Regions from separate parts of the Homo sapiens genome. Here all the other regions are linked to region 3. Evidence: fine-mapped expression QTL. A gene starts in region 3. Each other region holds a variant in brackets. All regions are shown on one strand. Distances are between the middles of the regions.

The links. PIP is the estimated chance that this variant, and not a neighbour inherited with it, causes the effect.
Region 1: its variant is the best candidate, but not a certain one, in a credible set for the expression of DOCK9 in sun-exposed skin (GTEx, PIP 0.59).
Region 2: its variant is the best candidate, but not a certain one, in a credible set for the expression of DOCK9 in whole blood (INTERVAL, PIP 0.78).
Region 4: its variant is the best candidate, but not a certain one, in a credible set for the expression of DOCK9 in fibroblasts (GTEx, PIP 0.74).

Annotation. Positions count from the first base shown.
Region 1 is chr13:98,940,844-98,944,843 of GRCh38, forward strand. The region is part of intron 2 of DOCK9 (dedicator of cytokinesis 9); the gene reads right to left. Among named protein-coding and RNA genes, the nearest start is that of DOCK9, 35 kb to the right of the region's middle. The variant T/C (reference allele first, on the strand shown) is at 1,593.
Region 2 is chr13:99,052,299-99,056,298 of GRCh38, forward strand. It overlaps a transcript of DOCK9 not described here. Among named protein-coding and RNA genes, the nearest start is that of DOCK9-DT, 32 kb to the right of the region's middle. The variant G/A (reference allele first, on the strand shown) is at 1,524.
Region 3 is chr13:98,975,653-98,979,652 of GRCh38, forward strand. It overlaps DOCK9 (dedicator of cytokinesis 9), which reads right to left and starts at 2,412. Exons shown (of 53, transcript NM_001366683.2): 1 at 2,132-2,412. The coding sequence starts at 2,257.
Region 4 is chr13:99,003,076-99,007,075 of GRCh38, forward strand. It overlaps a transcript of DOCK9 not described here. Among named protein-coding and RNA genes, the nearest start is that of DOCK9, 27 kb to the left of the region's middle. The variant G/T (reference allele first, on the strand shown) is at 2,365.

The sequences.
Region 1 (4,000 bases), 35 kb before region 3:
TCCATCATCCCTCTTATCTATTCTCTGCACACCTGCCATTTGTCTTTCTAAATCTCTCATCTGATAGCATCATGCCTCAGCTGAAATTCTTTCAGTGACGCCTCATTGCCACCAGAATAAAATCCAAACTCCTCAGCATGACCGAAGACCTTTTGTGACCAACCGTACTAACTTTTCTGGACTCTTCTGCCCTTCTCCAACAGTCCAGCAACATGGACTATTTCTGATTCCCTAATGCACCAGGCCCCTCTGACTGACACCAAGTTGCTCAGACTGGTCTCAGGAACACGTACCATTCTGCTAAGATTACTCAAAGATACTTCTGTGTCTCCTGCCTGACTTGAGAATCTGACCATGTTATTCATCTTTAATTCTCCAATACCCAGCAGAACACCTGGCACAAGATGAATGTTGCTGAGTAAATGGGAAGTTGGGACTTTAAAAGAGGGACTGCGCAATTTAGTTGTGAGATCACATGAGGTTCCAAATGAGACAGCGTCTCAGCAACACGTGAGACTTTAGACAGTTCCTTTCACCAAATAATGTACTGCTTCCTGAAAAGTCAGATTTCAGTAGACTTTGAGAGTCATATGAATTTCATTCTGCCACCTTCTCAAATCCCTTAAATGGAAGAGCACACGATTGTTTATTAAAATGCAGTAAACTAAATAACATAAATGTTCAGAACCCTTAATAACTAGTTATGAATTAAGTGCATTTTTGTAAAGAATTATATATTTTTTTGGTCTTACAAAGAAGCAATTTTAAAATCACTTGCTAAGTACTACTGCACAGCTGAGGACAGGAGAGTTACCCAGAAAACCAGGAGTAGCCTTGTGGTCATTTGGGGCCCACGTGGTATGTCTGCCTTCCCATTTAGTAAGGGATTGAGCCTGCTGAACAACTAAAGTTGAGGATGGCAACTAAAAACAGCCTCCTCAAAAATAAAATGACATTCCCTAGAGGCGAGAATAGAGGCTGTAATAAGCTCCCTAGTAACCTGGCGTCTGCCAAGCAATGGAAGGGCAGTAGCAAGGGCGTGCAGAGCTCTCCTGGATGGTAGTTATCTCTTTGGATTCTCAAACATCTGTGAGAACCAAATTTTAGGGGAAATATCATCACTGAATTACAGATTAAGAAAAGTGAGTTTTAGGAAGGTTTATCACTTATGAAAGGATCAGAGTAATAAGAGACAGACCTGAGTTAAAACCCCTGTGGACATACGACTAAATCTTGGGTCCTGTCACTACCTCTAGTGTCTAAAGCACCTACCAACTCTTTCATGTGCATTGCACTCAACCTTGAGGTAGGTGTAAGTAAGTGTACTTTCTTTACTTTCTTTTGTTTTCCAGTTGTCTGTATGTGTCTCTGGTTATGTTTTTTTTTTTGTTGTTTTTTTTTTTTGTTTTTTTGAGACAGAGTCTCGCTCTGTCCCCCTAGGCTGGAGTACAGTGGCGCGATCTTGGCTCACTGCAAGATCCGCCTCCCAGGTTCACGCCATTCTCCTGCCTCAGCCTCCCGAGTAGCTGGGACTACAGGCACCCGCCACCACGCCCGGCTAATTTTTTGTATTTTAAGTAGAGATGGGGTTT[T/C]GCCGTGTTAGCCAGGATGGTCTCGATCTCCTGACCTCGTGATCTGCCCACCTCGGCCTCCCAAAGTTCTGGGATTACAGGCGTGAGCCACCGCGCCCAGCTGGTTGTCTTTCTTTAGAATTCTATTTTAGTTGCTAAAAGGACCATAATTCTGTGTGAACATCTAGCACAGTGGATATGCTTCAAGTTAAAACATGTCCATCACAGTTACGTGTTGCATAACGCTAGAGATACATTCTGAGAAATGCATCATTGGGTGACTTTGTCCTTGTGCAGACTTGATAAAGTGTACTTACACAAACCTAGATGGTATAGCCTACCACACACCTAGGCTATAGGGTGTAGCCTATTGCTCCTAGGCCACATACCTGTACAACATGGGACTGTGCTGACTACTGTAGGGAGACGTAACACAATGGAAGTATGTGTGTACCTACACATATCTACACACGGAAAAGGTATGGTAAAATACAGCATTATAATTTGATGGGACCACCACTGTTGACTGAAAGGTCATTATGCAGTGCATGACTGTATTTATACATCTCGATACACCAGTGAACTTTCCTTCGGGACTTGTCTTAGGAAGACATACTCCCTACTGTGCCACCCATCATCCATATGTAAGGTTTCACTTATGCACTGAGTATAATTTCACTCAAATCCCTCTGAGTTGACCAGCGCCACACTGCTCCTGTCAGAGCAGCATTTCAGCTCCTGGGCTGCCATCCAGAGCCTTACTTCAAACACAGCGGAGAGTCAGCTTTGTAGATATAATGCTAAGCAGATGGGGAAGGCACTGTGACTCAAGACTTCTGACATCAGGGGACTTTGATAAACTTACTGAATCTGTCCTCTTTGGATCTCATGCACACACTCAAGGGTGTTGCTCAAACCCATGTGGGACACACTCAATATTATCTAGGTTCTTCTAGGCAACCCTGGTAGAAAAAGGCAGAGATACAGACATAGCTGGACTTGTTTTTGTTTTAGGAACCATAGAGATTTTGTGCCTGGTCATACGTTAAATGACATCTAGGAATTCTAAGGCCAAAACCTGGATTTCCATTTCCTTTAAGGACTCTTCGTTTGTGTGTGTTCGTTTTTGCATGCAAATTTACTGTCTACTTTACTTCTACTCCCATGATTTGCCACCTTGAGATATGCTCTAATGACCTCAAAGGCCACTGGTGCCAAGATCTCATATCCATTCATTTGTGTAATACCTATTAAGTGTCTACTATGGATAAAATACTATTGTAGGAATGTTGGCAAATGTAAACATGAATTTTCAAAAAACTATGGTTTACAATTTAAAAAAAAATTACAGCTTTCTAGTCTCATGGAGGCTTTATTTTCTATTTAGGGGAAAAAAAGCAGTTTCATAGTTACAAATAATCATAATAAAGAGGGATAGGGGATGAATGCTAGAGACACAGTATATACTTCATAAATTTCCATCTGATTAAGCTACCCCTGACGGAAGATATCATCCTTAGTTCAAATCTTCCTCTATCCATGCCTGTTGATTACCTTTAATATCCTAAGACATATACACTAATCACATAGATAAAATTGTCCTTCTATGCCTCATTGGTTTGCAAATATGGTCTGCATTTATCCAATTCCACCAATTGTAGAATTTTACCATTCTCTCTGACATATTTAAAATGTCAGCTAAATGTTATTTTAAAAAGAAAAGAAGAATGTGACCTCTCATGGGGAACACAAACATACAATGATGGACTACTGGGTTCATCAATATCCTTCATTCAGGATAAGAGAATAACATCTTACATTTACTTGATGTATACAGGTGGTATTTCATACGTGTGTGCTCTCTTTCTTCTAGTTACATGTGTAGTTAATGTCAACTACCCACTTAATCCTAGGTTTTCCTGAGCACAATATGGAGCAAAAATCACGTCACAGTGTCCACTATATGAGAAAAAAAAAAAAAAAAAAAGCTACTACCCTCAGCAGGCTGAGGAAAAAAAAAATAAAGAAAATGATGAAATACTTTGTAAGCATAAAAATCAACACACTGATCTTGTACCCTAACTGTTTCAGCAGGAGGCATCATGGTTCCGCTGAGTTCTCTGGCTCCTGAGGGCACCATTACACTGTGTTCCATGTGTGTGTCCTGCTCCCGCATAACATGTTCAATCACATCCCCTACAGTCCTATGCCAGGGCACATGGGGACACAGCTGCCCACACACCCTCCCCTGCCTGTAACAGTTCATGGGGATGCAGAGGGATACCCTGGGAACAGCGAGGAAGGCGGGAGAACCCTTTGAGGTGCCAATCAGCTGAACCTCACTTAAGGACAGCGGGGTCATGACCAGATCATCCTCCTAGCCTATCAGGCCTCCACCTTCATTTAGAAAGGCTGGCACAAATACAAAG
Region 2 (4,000 bases), 77 kb after region 3:
TGCCTGGCCATGGAGTAGGATGGAAGGATCTCCTGGTAAACAAATGCCAGCACACAGCTTACTTCTCCCTGACCTCAGCTCCCCATCTCCCTAGATTCCACAAAATATTCTGCTATCCTAAATGATTTCAAAGTACAGACCACACTCCGTATCCAAGGGTTCCATGGTGTGAGGTGGTATCTCACTGTGGTTTTAATTTGCATTTCCCTGATGATTATTGATGTTGAGCATTTTTCCATATACCTGTTGGCCACTTGTATGTCTTCTTTTGAAAAATGGCTATTGCCCTTTTTTTTGGGGAGGTTTGTGGGGGTAGACACAGGGTCTCACTGTGTCACCCAGGCTGGAGAGCAACGCAGTGGTGCAATCATGGTTCACTGCAGCCTCGAACTCCTGGGCTCAAGTGGTCCTCCTACGTCAGACTCCTAAGTAACTGGGACTATAGACACATGCCACCACACCAGCCTTCTTTTTTTTTTTTTTTAAGTAGAGACCAGGGTCTCACTATGTTGCCCAGGCTCTTTGCCCATTTTTTAACTGAGTTGTTTTCTCACTTTGAGTTGAGTTTTTTATATGTTTTGGATATTAATCCCTTATCAGATGTACAATTTGCAAATATATCCTCCCATTCCATTGGCTGTCTCTCCACTCTATTGATGCTAATGAATTTCTAATGGTAGGTTTTTCAGGCCTCAGTAGGGATTCGCCGTTGGGATGAAGTCTCTCCCATTACTCCTTCAGTCAAACCACTTCCAGTTCCCAATTTCTTGGTTGTCTCCAGGAGCCCAGTTCCTAAACACACCTGAAAATAAAATAGATTACCACTAACATCACTCCTGCGCCCTCTCCCAGCTGCCACTGTGTTCACATCCCTACTGTCCTTTTCTATTGAAATCAGATAAGAATTATGTCCACAGTAACTTAAGCCACAGAGATTTCAAGAGCTTTGTTAAATGACAAAATTTCCTAAGCCTATACAAATTTGCAGGAGAGCAAAGAAGATAAATTTTGTCACTCTTGTTCAGAATTCTAAGCTACTATAAATAATTTCCCATGCAAATCACGTTTTGTGGCAGAAGGAAAAAACCAGCAACCTTAATACATATTTCTAAAATAGCTCATTATGCTTCTAAGAAAAAAACTTAGAATATAAATTTAATTATTCAAATTCAATATAATTTAATTAAATGTAATTGAATTAAATTGCTTTCTAAGGTATTCTTTCTGTAAGCCACTTGAACCAAGAAAGCCACCTGGTTTTATTTAAAGCCAATGGTAAGAACTTTCTGAGACAAGGAGAAACCTCTGTAACTCAGACCCTTGTACAAAAGAATTAAAGAAATTAAAACCGGGAACCAGGTTTCAGTAACTGCAGGAGGGTTCTCCTTCCTGCCAGGGCCTGGAGTGAGGATCAGTTACTGTAACCAAGAAACCTCAGACTGTTACCTGGTCCCCAGCGATAGCACAACATGTGGCCTGGGCCCATCAGATAGCACACACTTGAGGGTTATTACAAGAGGAGC[G/A]AAGCACCCCACACCCTCCACCTCCCCTCACTCACCCTCCTACTCCCAAGAAAACACCAGGAGGTTTTGGAAGCAGGGTTAATCTTGCATTGAAAAAAAAACACAAAGCAGATGGGGCTGAGTTAGTCTGACTACCACATCTCAAAGAAGATTATCTGCCTAACACGGTAAGCAAGAAAGGGGAGTCATGAAGAAGTCAAAAGCCAAAACCAGGGGTGAATTTCTGCATAGATCATTTTTCACTGTCTTCCTTTTCCACTGTAAGACACTGCAATTCTTTGCCGCATCTCAAAAGAGGAGACTCTTCTGGTGGCTCACTCTAAAATCTAGTTCATGGGGATTACTCAGGCATATTTATAAACCCAATGGCTGCAAAATTACAAATATTAGTGCTCTCACTTAGAAAAAAAACAGCCTTGGTCTAGAGTAATTAAAACATAAAAACATTACTCTCCATGCTCTGAGACCCTTAATGGGGTAATTTGTGGCCTCGCCAAAAATTTGAAAGGTGGGCTTCCATGGCCCACTATAACCTAGAGCTCTAGACCAACATAGCCTCACCCAGAATCTTTGTACATCCTAACAACCAGACACTGACACTGAGCTCACAACAGCAGAAATAATAGCAATGGTAATAAAGCAGGTTTTACAGAATAGCTGAGAAAGCCACACAAGTCCACATAAAGCAGTTAAGTCCCTAACTGTGATAAATCTAAAAACTTGGTTTGCTGTTAGTTGTTGGTTGGACAGGGTTTGAGGGCAAGCAAGAGGGAAGGCATAAGCCCAGAATCACATCTAAGTTCTTCCATTGCTACTGCCCTGCCTCAAGCATAAAGCACAATAGTCTGATGAAACCTGCTCCTCTTTTTACCTTTGCCATGTTAAGTTCTCTCTCCTAAGCTGGGAGATTCTTAACTACGCCAGTATCACCAGCAAATCAAGCACTATCACAAGCACCATCAGGCTGAAGTTAAGGGATGAGGCTGAACCTTATACCACCTTCCATCTGTGCTTGCCTTTACTACGAGAAAAATTTTAAATGAATATCCCACAGAGAAGACAAAAAAGATGGCACCTCAGTTTTAAAGTGCCTTCTTCACTTACTTTCCTAACTTAGGAGAGGTTTTCAGTCATCCATTTCACAAACCAAAGAGCTAAATCAGTCATGAATTGCTAATAGTAGAAATGAAGCAGGGAAAGAATTGCCTCATCCACTTTTTTTGCACAAAGGTTCTGCTATGAAATTTTCTTGAATGAACATATGAATGAATGGCCCATTACTCTACTACTATGGATTAGCAAAAAATAATAATTTGAAACAACCGGGGTATCTAGTTAAAGGGTACACCAGGACTTCCTTATACTATCCTTGACTTTTCATATAAGTCTGAAATTAAATAAAAGTTCCAAAAAACAGAATGGGAAGAAAATAACTTGCCCTCTGTGTAGGGTAGGGTCCCATTGGAGATTAGCACTAAAGGAACTTTCTACAAACTTTCAAAAACAAAATCTGTGTCCCCATGCGGTAGCAGGAAAAGAGGACTCCCTGTGAGAAATGAGAAAGGAAGAGGCGATTCTGTGTGAACAGGAAGTGGGAACGTCTGCGTTGGCTGGGCAGCCTCCAGTGCGGGGAAGGGGGCATCGCACCTAAGAGAAAGCGAGCCGGTGCTTAACTGTGGAGGGGACCGCAATGGGAGAAATTAGAAGAGAGGAGCAGCCAGGCGCACAGGGTCAGTTGTGCAGGGCAGAGCAGGAAGAGAGGCATATGGAATGTGGATTGGGATTTTAATGGAAAACTATATGCAGTTCTTTGTGGCCTAAGCTGTATTACTCAATTACATTGATAATATTGACTACATTGATATTATTAATAAGTTATACTATTACCATAATATTGCACACAGTTGTCAACTGTTCTCTAGGTTCCTAACAGCTGTGCCTAATAAGCCTGTACAGCCTTTCTCCAGCCTTAAATGAAGACAGACACTAGATACAGGCTAAGACAGCTTTTAACATATACTAGCTGTCTGCAGTGACTAGACCCAGGATCTGAGGCCTATGATAAATTCCTAGGCCAAAGAATCTGGGATTTTTTTCAGAAATCAGCCAAGCTTTCCAAAAGCACTGTCAGGACCAAATATCAGCTGCACTAAGCATCACAGGGACGTGGAATGGTAACAACAAAAGTGCCTTTGTAGCTGAATGAAACAGAACCTGGTCTGGTTACTGTATTCTATACCAAAGCCTTTGAAGATGACAAATTTAAATTCCACAAGGTCTTTCCAGTTTAGTGAACATAGAGAGTTTCCCTGGAAATATATATTTTTTTCCTGTAAACGGAGTGCCAAATGTTTTGATCATTTTTAGAATATATATGTAAAAAATACTTTTGAAAGTGCAATTGTGAGATGTTTCACCATACAAACTAATAACAGGCAATTCAGCTTCCCTGGCTATCCAATCATTGCTTGTTTGAC
Region 3 (4,000 bases):
ACTACACGCATTAATTAATTTTATCCGTTTTAATTTATGTAATATTTTTCCCCAAGGACTGTTTCTGTACATAACTAAAAACAGCAAAACTTTATTTCAAAATGCTACCTCCTGAATAAAGCATGTTACCTACATTTAAACGTCTCTAGGTATAATGCATTCAAATGATAGACAGTCTTGGGGATTCTTACCAAGCCCGTGGGCCACTGACATTCGAACAATGAATAGTACTGCCACAAACAGGTTGCACAATGGTGTCTGCCTCCTTCTGAAAAATCATCTTGAGAAACAAGTTGCCTTTCCAGCAGTCTGTTGAACTCTTGTTTGCCAGTGGGCAGCAACAGCCACAGGTAAGAGATCTGCCCTCGGCAAAGGCCCTGCTGAAATATCCTTGCTTCCCTGATCTGACATTAGCTCTTCTTATCTTGTTTACCCTGCTGGAAGAAGAGAAACACTGCCCGATAAGAAAAAACTTCTGGTATCACTGTTGGCTTCCTCACTCCCTCACCCCTCTCTGCAGGTGCGCAGAGCTGAGATCACACTGCCACAAGCTGCTGGGCCCTGACAAGTGTTCCCACCAAATGCAGCTGTAGCCAGCACAGCTTTATCCATTGCAGTGGAAAAAGACCCCCAGAGGAACTGCCTGGAGTGAGATTTACCTAAACAAATAGCTAGGACATAAATGGCAAATTTCTTGAGCACTAGAAAGAGAAGTAAGTTTAAGAAGTCACTTGTGTGCTTAAAAAAAAAAAATTGCATAGCATCTTTCTACAGTGTATTCAGTCCTGTAGACAAATATTTCTACACAGCTGGAGAATCACTGACAGAAGATTTTTAAGAATATTCACAAGGGAACCTAAACCACACAACTTCCTCCAAGAAATCCTAAGTTACATCAGCTGCTTTAAGCAGTGAAATCCATACAGCCTGTGAGCAACCCAACAGAGAAGTGGGCTATTATATTGGCAGCAAGGAATCCAGAACAATGAATTACATTTCTAAACAATGTAGCAGAGGGTGAAGAAAAGAAACCTAAATCTCTAAGATGAAAATCTGCAGTGAAAAAGACCATGATATTTTACTAACTTTTCAGTTCAGGGTTAGCAATATAGTTTTGAAGGCAATAAAATATAGGGCAGTCTCACGAGTCACAAAGAAAGCAACTCAGTTCAAATCAAATCTGTTATAGGAAAGTTTAAGTTCAGATTCTTAGACATTAATTGAAAATTAAGTAAATTAGTAAGCAAACACTTCATGGTAACATCAACTGAACCTCCACGTTAAAGAAAAAAAAAAATCACTAAATAAAATCACTACATATCAGTTTAACAATCTCTTTAGCAGATAATTTGAAAGGCTCAATTGTCCCCCCTCTGCAGGGCATGTTGGTGGTTTTGTGCAGCTTGCTTAAAAAATTATGTGCCTTTATTGTACTGAAGAAATTCCGAGAGAAGCACAACCTACTCACTGATGATAACAACACAACCATTTTTCACATTCCTCCCCTCCAAAGTCCACCAAAGCACTTGGCTTTAGACAAATGCTGAGAGTTTAGCTGATGTTAAGAACAGAAACGTTTCTATCAGCTGGTTCACAGTTTAGGTTCTTCCCTACTTTATTCAAGGCAAACCTCCTGGTAAAATGAGTGAGAAGAACATATGTGATTTTATCCTTTCTAAACTATGTAATATTTCCAACAGTTATGTTCCTTAAAACCCCCAATGGGACCTGCCTCATTTTCTCAATAGCATAAATAACGTAGAAAAGGTTTTAATTTTGCAAAGCACATCTTTTTTCAACCCTATAGTTGCAATTAAAATATGCTTCCTGGGTTTACATTTGCAAACACTGCAGCTAGGTGGGACATAATTGTGAACAATACATAATTGTCCCATACAAAGAAACCTCCCAGAAACCATATTCACCCACAAAATGTCAACATTTCTTTCTTCACAAAGAAGAATCAAAGGGGAATCGAAGTCATATTACAGGGAAAGAGTGGAGTTCACAAGGGACAAGCAGAGCAAGTTTTGAAATCAAAGACAGGCAACAGGCGTCAACCCCGTCCACACGCACAATAAGAACCCAGCATTGGGTAGACACAGCAACACTTTGTACGAGACCCTCTTACCGGCACAGGGCCCGGGCTCTCTGCTTCCACTTCGCCCTGAGCTGCATCCTTGTATTGCAGGGGGGACTCAATCACCAGTTCCTTTTTGACACTTCTACTACTTGTCCTGCATTTATCAGCCTGCATTCTCGGCTGAAAACGCAAGTCAGAAAGTCTGCAACTGGAACAGCTGCGAGTCCCTGGCCGTGCAAGGCACAGGCATGCCAGTGGTCCAAGGAAGGAAAGGAAACTGGCTTCCCAGGCACAAGTGGTCAGCCCCGCTGGCTGGGTCTGCAGAGCCTGTGGGGTGGGAAGGCATGACAGCAAAGGCCAGCCTCCAGGGGTGTTACTACTCCATGCAAAAGGGGAGGCTCCTACTTGCTGGCCAAAGGAAAACAAACTCCAAGCTGAACAATACACAGTGTACTGCCTCTCTGATAAAGACCGGCTTTATTGTGTCTGTTCCACACAGCGTGGGCCAAATCAATCGGAATCAAAATACTGCAGTGTTTAAAAGAAAACCAGTCACAGTTAGACTCCTTCATAATTACCTTAAATCTGAAGCTCGTGGAGCTTAAGAGACAGCAAGGTTGTCTGCTTGTTCTAAAATTCTTCCAGTTTTGGAATGCTTTCATTTGTGTTATGGTTAAAAACCAAATGCCTGGCTGATGATTAAAGCAGGGAAGAGCTACCAGCAAGTATGTTCCCATAGCCTGCACCTCGTGGATACAGGTGGAGGAAATGAGTTTCACCCCGCATGACAGACCACAGCATGAAACACTTAATTTATGTACTATTTGATGCCAGAAAGATGAGGTCATCAAAACATTTTCATGGGATACCACATATCATAGTAAATGCATTTATTAAACAGAATATTACTTTAAGTCCAGATGTGTGGGTATCAGAAGGTACCCCCAGTACTAGGTGCTGAGAGGATCATACTAAAAGTATAAGGTAGAGTATCTCTCCCTTCAAAGAACTTCACATCTAGCTGGGAAGGCAAGAAGAGCAGACATCATAAATGACAAATTAATAAAATTAAGAGAGAGATGCACAAAAGCACGGGAAAATAGCTGGATCACCAACCTACGGTTCAATGGTGGTTTAGTAGCACCCAAAATATGTGTTCCTAAAAGTCTGTATTTTTATTATTTCCTCACATTTAACAGTGGAGTCTTTTTTACCTCTTGGGAAAAATTAAAACAGAGGTATTAAGGGATTTGTCTAAAAGTTATGTAGAAATGAACATTAAAGGGGGGATCAAATATTACTCTGTACTTCATGGATACCGCAGAGCTTTTCCTAGTTACTCTGAGTATTTCCTGGACATCAGGGAAGATTTAGTAACAGTAGACAACAAGCAGCAGCAGCAGCAGCAGCCGTAGCAGTAGCAGTAACAGCAGTAGCAGCAGCAATAGTAGTAGTAGTAGTAGTAGTAGTAGTAGTAGTAGTAGTAGTAGTAGTAGCAGCAGCGGCGGCAGCAGCAGCAGCAGTATTCAGTCAGTCAACAACGAGAGTAGTTATCATGTAGCAACAATAGGTGCCAGAGGAACTCTACCCAGGGAAATAACATAAACTATTATACAAGTCACAGGTAAAAGTCTCCCACTTTCCAGACAAAGGAACGCAGCCAGGAGGGCTCAGAGGAGGCAGTGGGGAGAACTGAGATGCCACCCAGTCCTCGCACAGCCGCCTCCCTCTCCTAGCACCTGCTGCAGCTGCTCTACTTCAAGAGTGAAGCTGAAGCTGGGTCTCTGCCACTTGAACACCAGGAACCCTTCTGAGTGTGAATATCAATTATGTAACGATCTCAAAGGATCAATGAGTCCATCAAATAAATTAATGGCTTCTATAATTTTTTTTAAACTACCCAATCTCTCAACCTTG
Region 4 (4,000 bases), 27 kb after region 3:
CCCCAGTCTACTACACAAGCCCCTTCCAGGCCAAGGGGATACCTTGAAATTCTGTTGTGCCTAAAAGGATGGTGTGCACATAACATATTTTGTTAAATGTTCCTGCGGACAGTAAAGATGATGGTGTTGGTGAACTAGAGGCAAGAGGCTTAAACAAACACACTCAGACAGAGGTCTTCAAGCCGTTGGCATTTATTTCTTTAGCTAAGATTCTGTTTCCAGATGCACAGCAGGCTCTCCCCATCCCTGAGCACTCAGCTCCAGGCTCCTTTCCCAGCTCCTTCTCCTGTCCCTTCCAGGGCCCTTGGCTCTTTGCCTTCTGAATACGCTCACCAGGAGATCTCATCCCCTTCCATCCTTCATTACCAGACATCTGTCTGTGCTGGGATCCACACTCTAGCTATGGTCCTACTAGTCGCATCCCACTGGTTTACATGTTGTGATGCGCTAAACCTCAAACTCAAGATGTCTGGAACTGAAATCCTCCTTTCCCAATTCTTCCTGATCCATTCCTTCAGTGCTCCCACCTCAGCAGGTGGCACCCTGGAGGTGCCCAGGGCACAAATACCAACACTCTTGACTCCTTGTCTCTTATTTAACTGCCAAATCTCTCATTTAACACTCTCTTAAATCTTCTATCTCCTCCACCACCTGCTTCAGGCCACCATCACCTGTGACCCCCCAATGACCTCCTCACTAGTGTTCCTGTCTTGAGACCTCTCCTTTCTCTAAGCCGTTATCCACCCTGCAGGATAAGTACAGTATGAGATTCATTAAAAACATGAACATGTTTCTTTAAAACCTTCACTAAATGGCTTCCCTCTAATACAGGAATAAAGTTCCAACAAGACCCACCATGATATGTCCCCTGCTTACCTCTCCAGCCTCACTGGTCACCCTTCTACTCCCACCATTGTCCTACAGCCTGATAAGCCCCCTCCAGCACTGTGGAATTACTAGCAGTTCCAAGGAGCCCTCAGCTCTCCCTCCTTGGGACTTTGCTCCCTCTGCAGAAACGTCCCTCTCCTTCTCCTTCACCTGGTTAAATCCTTCTACAAGGAGCCCTGCGTAGGTGCTTGTGGTACCTGTGCTTACCCCCATCATGGCCCATATCCCACGTGGCAGCCTTATGGGCCCTCTGAGAGCAGAGATTATGACTCTTTCATATCATACCACCCTGTAATTGGCAAACATCCAATGGATGTCTGAGAACTGAAGAAAATATGGGAGGTTGGGGGAGAACAAGGAAAAGACCTCAGGATTCTCTTCCAGTTGTTCTTCAACAATAAAGAAAGCACAAGGAAATAATAAGTTACAAGACTGAGTCTTTGATAATGTTGTTACCTGTTTCTTAAGCCTAGAAAATATACAGGAAATACCAAACATCCATAAAACTATTTAGCATACAGGACTGCATCTGAGAATCCCATAAACAGTCTCACTCCACAGACTCTGCAAAGGCAGAACCTACTCAAGAAGCAGAGAAAACACCTATCATCGGCAATTGGCTCCAAGTGGTCCCTCTGCTTCTGTTCACAAGTCATTTCTACTTTGAGTCTCCTAGGATATGTGTTTTTCCTTGGCAGAGAAACAAATGCTGATTGAAACGTATCCTAGGATGAGGTCATTCATTGTTCATTGACATTTGAAAAATAGTAAAGTACACCTTTATTCAATATTCTAGTACTGCATTGACCAAAAAACTATAGACACACACACACACACACACACACACACACACACACAGTCACATGTACTTCACACACACATATTCATATCCAAACCTTCGTATACACTATAAAATCTAGTTAAGGAGGGAAATTAATTATCCTTAGAATTTGTATAATGTATAAAAGGAAAACCAGAATGTACTCTTCATCTATAAATGTACAGATATATTTCCTGCAGACATGAATAGACTTTGTTTGGAAACTCTGCTAGCACCTTTGCTTATATTTTGCTGGGACTTCTTTTGTTAGCAAAGACCGGATATACCAAAAAAAAAAAAAGAGTAGATTCAAATCAAGGTTACTTGAGGATGCAGCTGCCACGCTGGAATTTTTCTTTCATCAAAATGCCCCAGAGAGTCCACATAAAGACAAGCTTGATCTATTTTATGAACAGGCTATTTACTGAGGAAACAAACCTACAAATATAATTAACTGCTCACTTAAACCTTAACCCTTAGCTCCTGAATCTTAACCAATATGTCTCATAAGATCACTTAATTCAGCAACTTACGCAGTACAGTCTGTTTATTCTATCTTTAAATTATAGAATTTATGTCTCTCCCCAAATTTCTTGTTTTCATTTTTCCTGAATTGCAATTAAACTGACAGCTGTATAAGAACCTTGCTTTTGCAG[G/T]GCACAGAGAACACTAAAGAAAAAAATGGGGAGTAGGGGAAAAAGGAAAAGGCCTTAGGGTTTTCTTCCAATTGTTGCAAAGCCTAGTATATAAAAGAACATAAAATATAATAAAGGCAGTATCACAAACCACTGAGTAAGGAATGGATTATTCAACATGGGACTGGGAAAAATGGGTAGGAAATTGAATTAGGATCTTAACTAAACTATAAATCCAAATAAATTCTAAATCTACTAAAGCAGGGCACAGCAAACTTTTTGCAAAGGGCCAGCTAGTAAATATTTTAGGTCAGCTGATAATATTTATCAGGTGACTTTATCAGCTGACTTAAATAAGTGTCTGTCCTAATGACTCAACTCTAGCACCATTAAAGCAGGCCTGGACAATATAAAAAAACAAATGTGGCTATGTGGCAATAAAACTTTATTTACAAAAACAGACAGCAGGCCAGATTTGCCCCATAGACTTAGTCTGCTAACCCTGAGGGGAAAAGACAAATAGTAAATAAACAAACAAATTCCAAAAGAAAATACTGGTGAATATCTGATCTCAGATAGGCAAGAATTTCTAAGCATAAAGGTAATGGAAGAAACCACAGAGGAAAAGATGGTTATGTATACCATTTACATTCAAACCTCAGTTAGTAAAATAAGTACCATAAAGAAATTAAACAAAATCAAAAGGCAAATGACAAAACAGAGAAACACGTGATGAAGATAACGAAGGATTTAGAGTTTGAAAGGTGTTATCTTTTGTTTCTCAAACTGGCAAAAATGATGCTAGCCAGGATCATATATAAAAAAAGCACTAATAGTCCCTGCTGCTAGGAGTGTAACTTGGATCAGTCATCACACAATAAAACAATATGCCTTAATAGGCCTTTAAAAAATTCATTCTTCGCAAGTTCACTTTTATAAATCTAGCCTACAAAAATAACTATAGATCCACACAGATTTTTGGGTAAAGATGTCTTCTGTAATCTCGATTTATAACAACCTAAATACTGAACAACAGAGAAGTATTTAAATAAATTCCCGTACATATATTACAATGGAATACTATACATATGTTAAATCATGTTTTAGCAGAACTTTATGGGCATAAGAAAATGCTCATAATAAAATACAGTAAGTGAAAAATGCATCAGAAATTTTTATGGACAATTATCCCTTTTTTAATATTTGCAGAAGCAGAGAAAAATATCAGAAAACACATACCACAAATTAAGCAGTTTTGGTTTCTGGGCTGTGAGTTATGGGTAATTTTTGTTTTCCTCTTATTCTTCTTTGTGGTCTCTAAATTTTCTACAGTACTTATGTATTCTAAATATAAAAGACAACAAATGTTACTTTTAAAAAGCAAAAAGCATGGTGGGGTGTGGTGGCTCACACCTGTAATCCCAGCACTTTGGGAGGCCAAAGTGGGTGAATTACTTGAGTTCAGGAGTTCCAGACCAACCTGACAACAAGGTGAAAACCCGTCTCTATAAGAAATACAAAAAGTTAGCTAGGCATGGTGGTGCTTGTCTGTAGTCCCAATTACTCAGGAGGCTTAGGTGGCAGGATGGTTTGAGCCCAGGAGGCAGAGGCTTTAGTGAGCCAAGATTGCACCACTGTACTCCAGCCTGGGTGACAG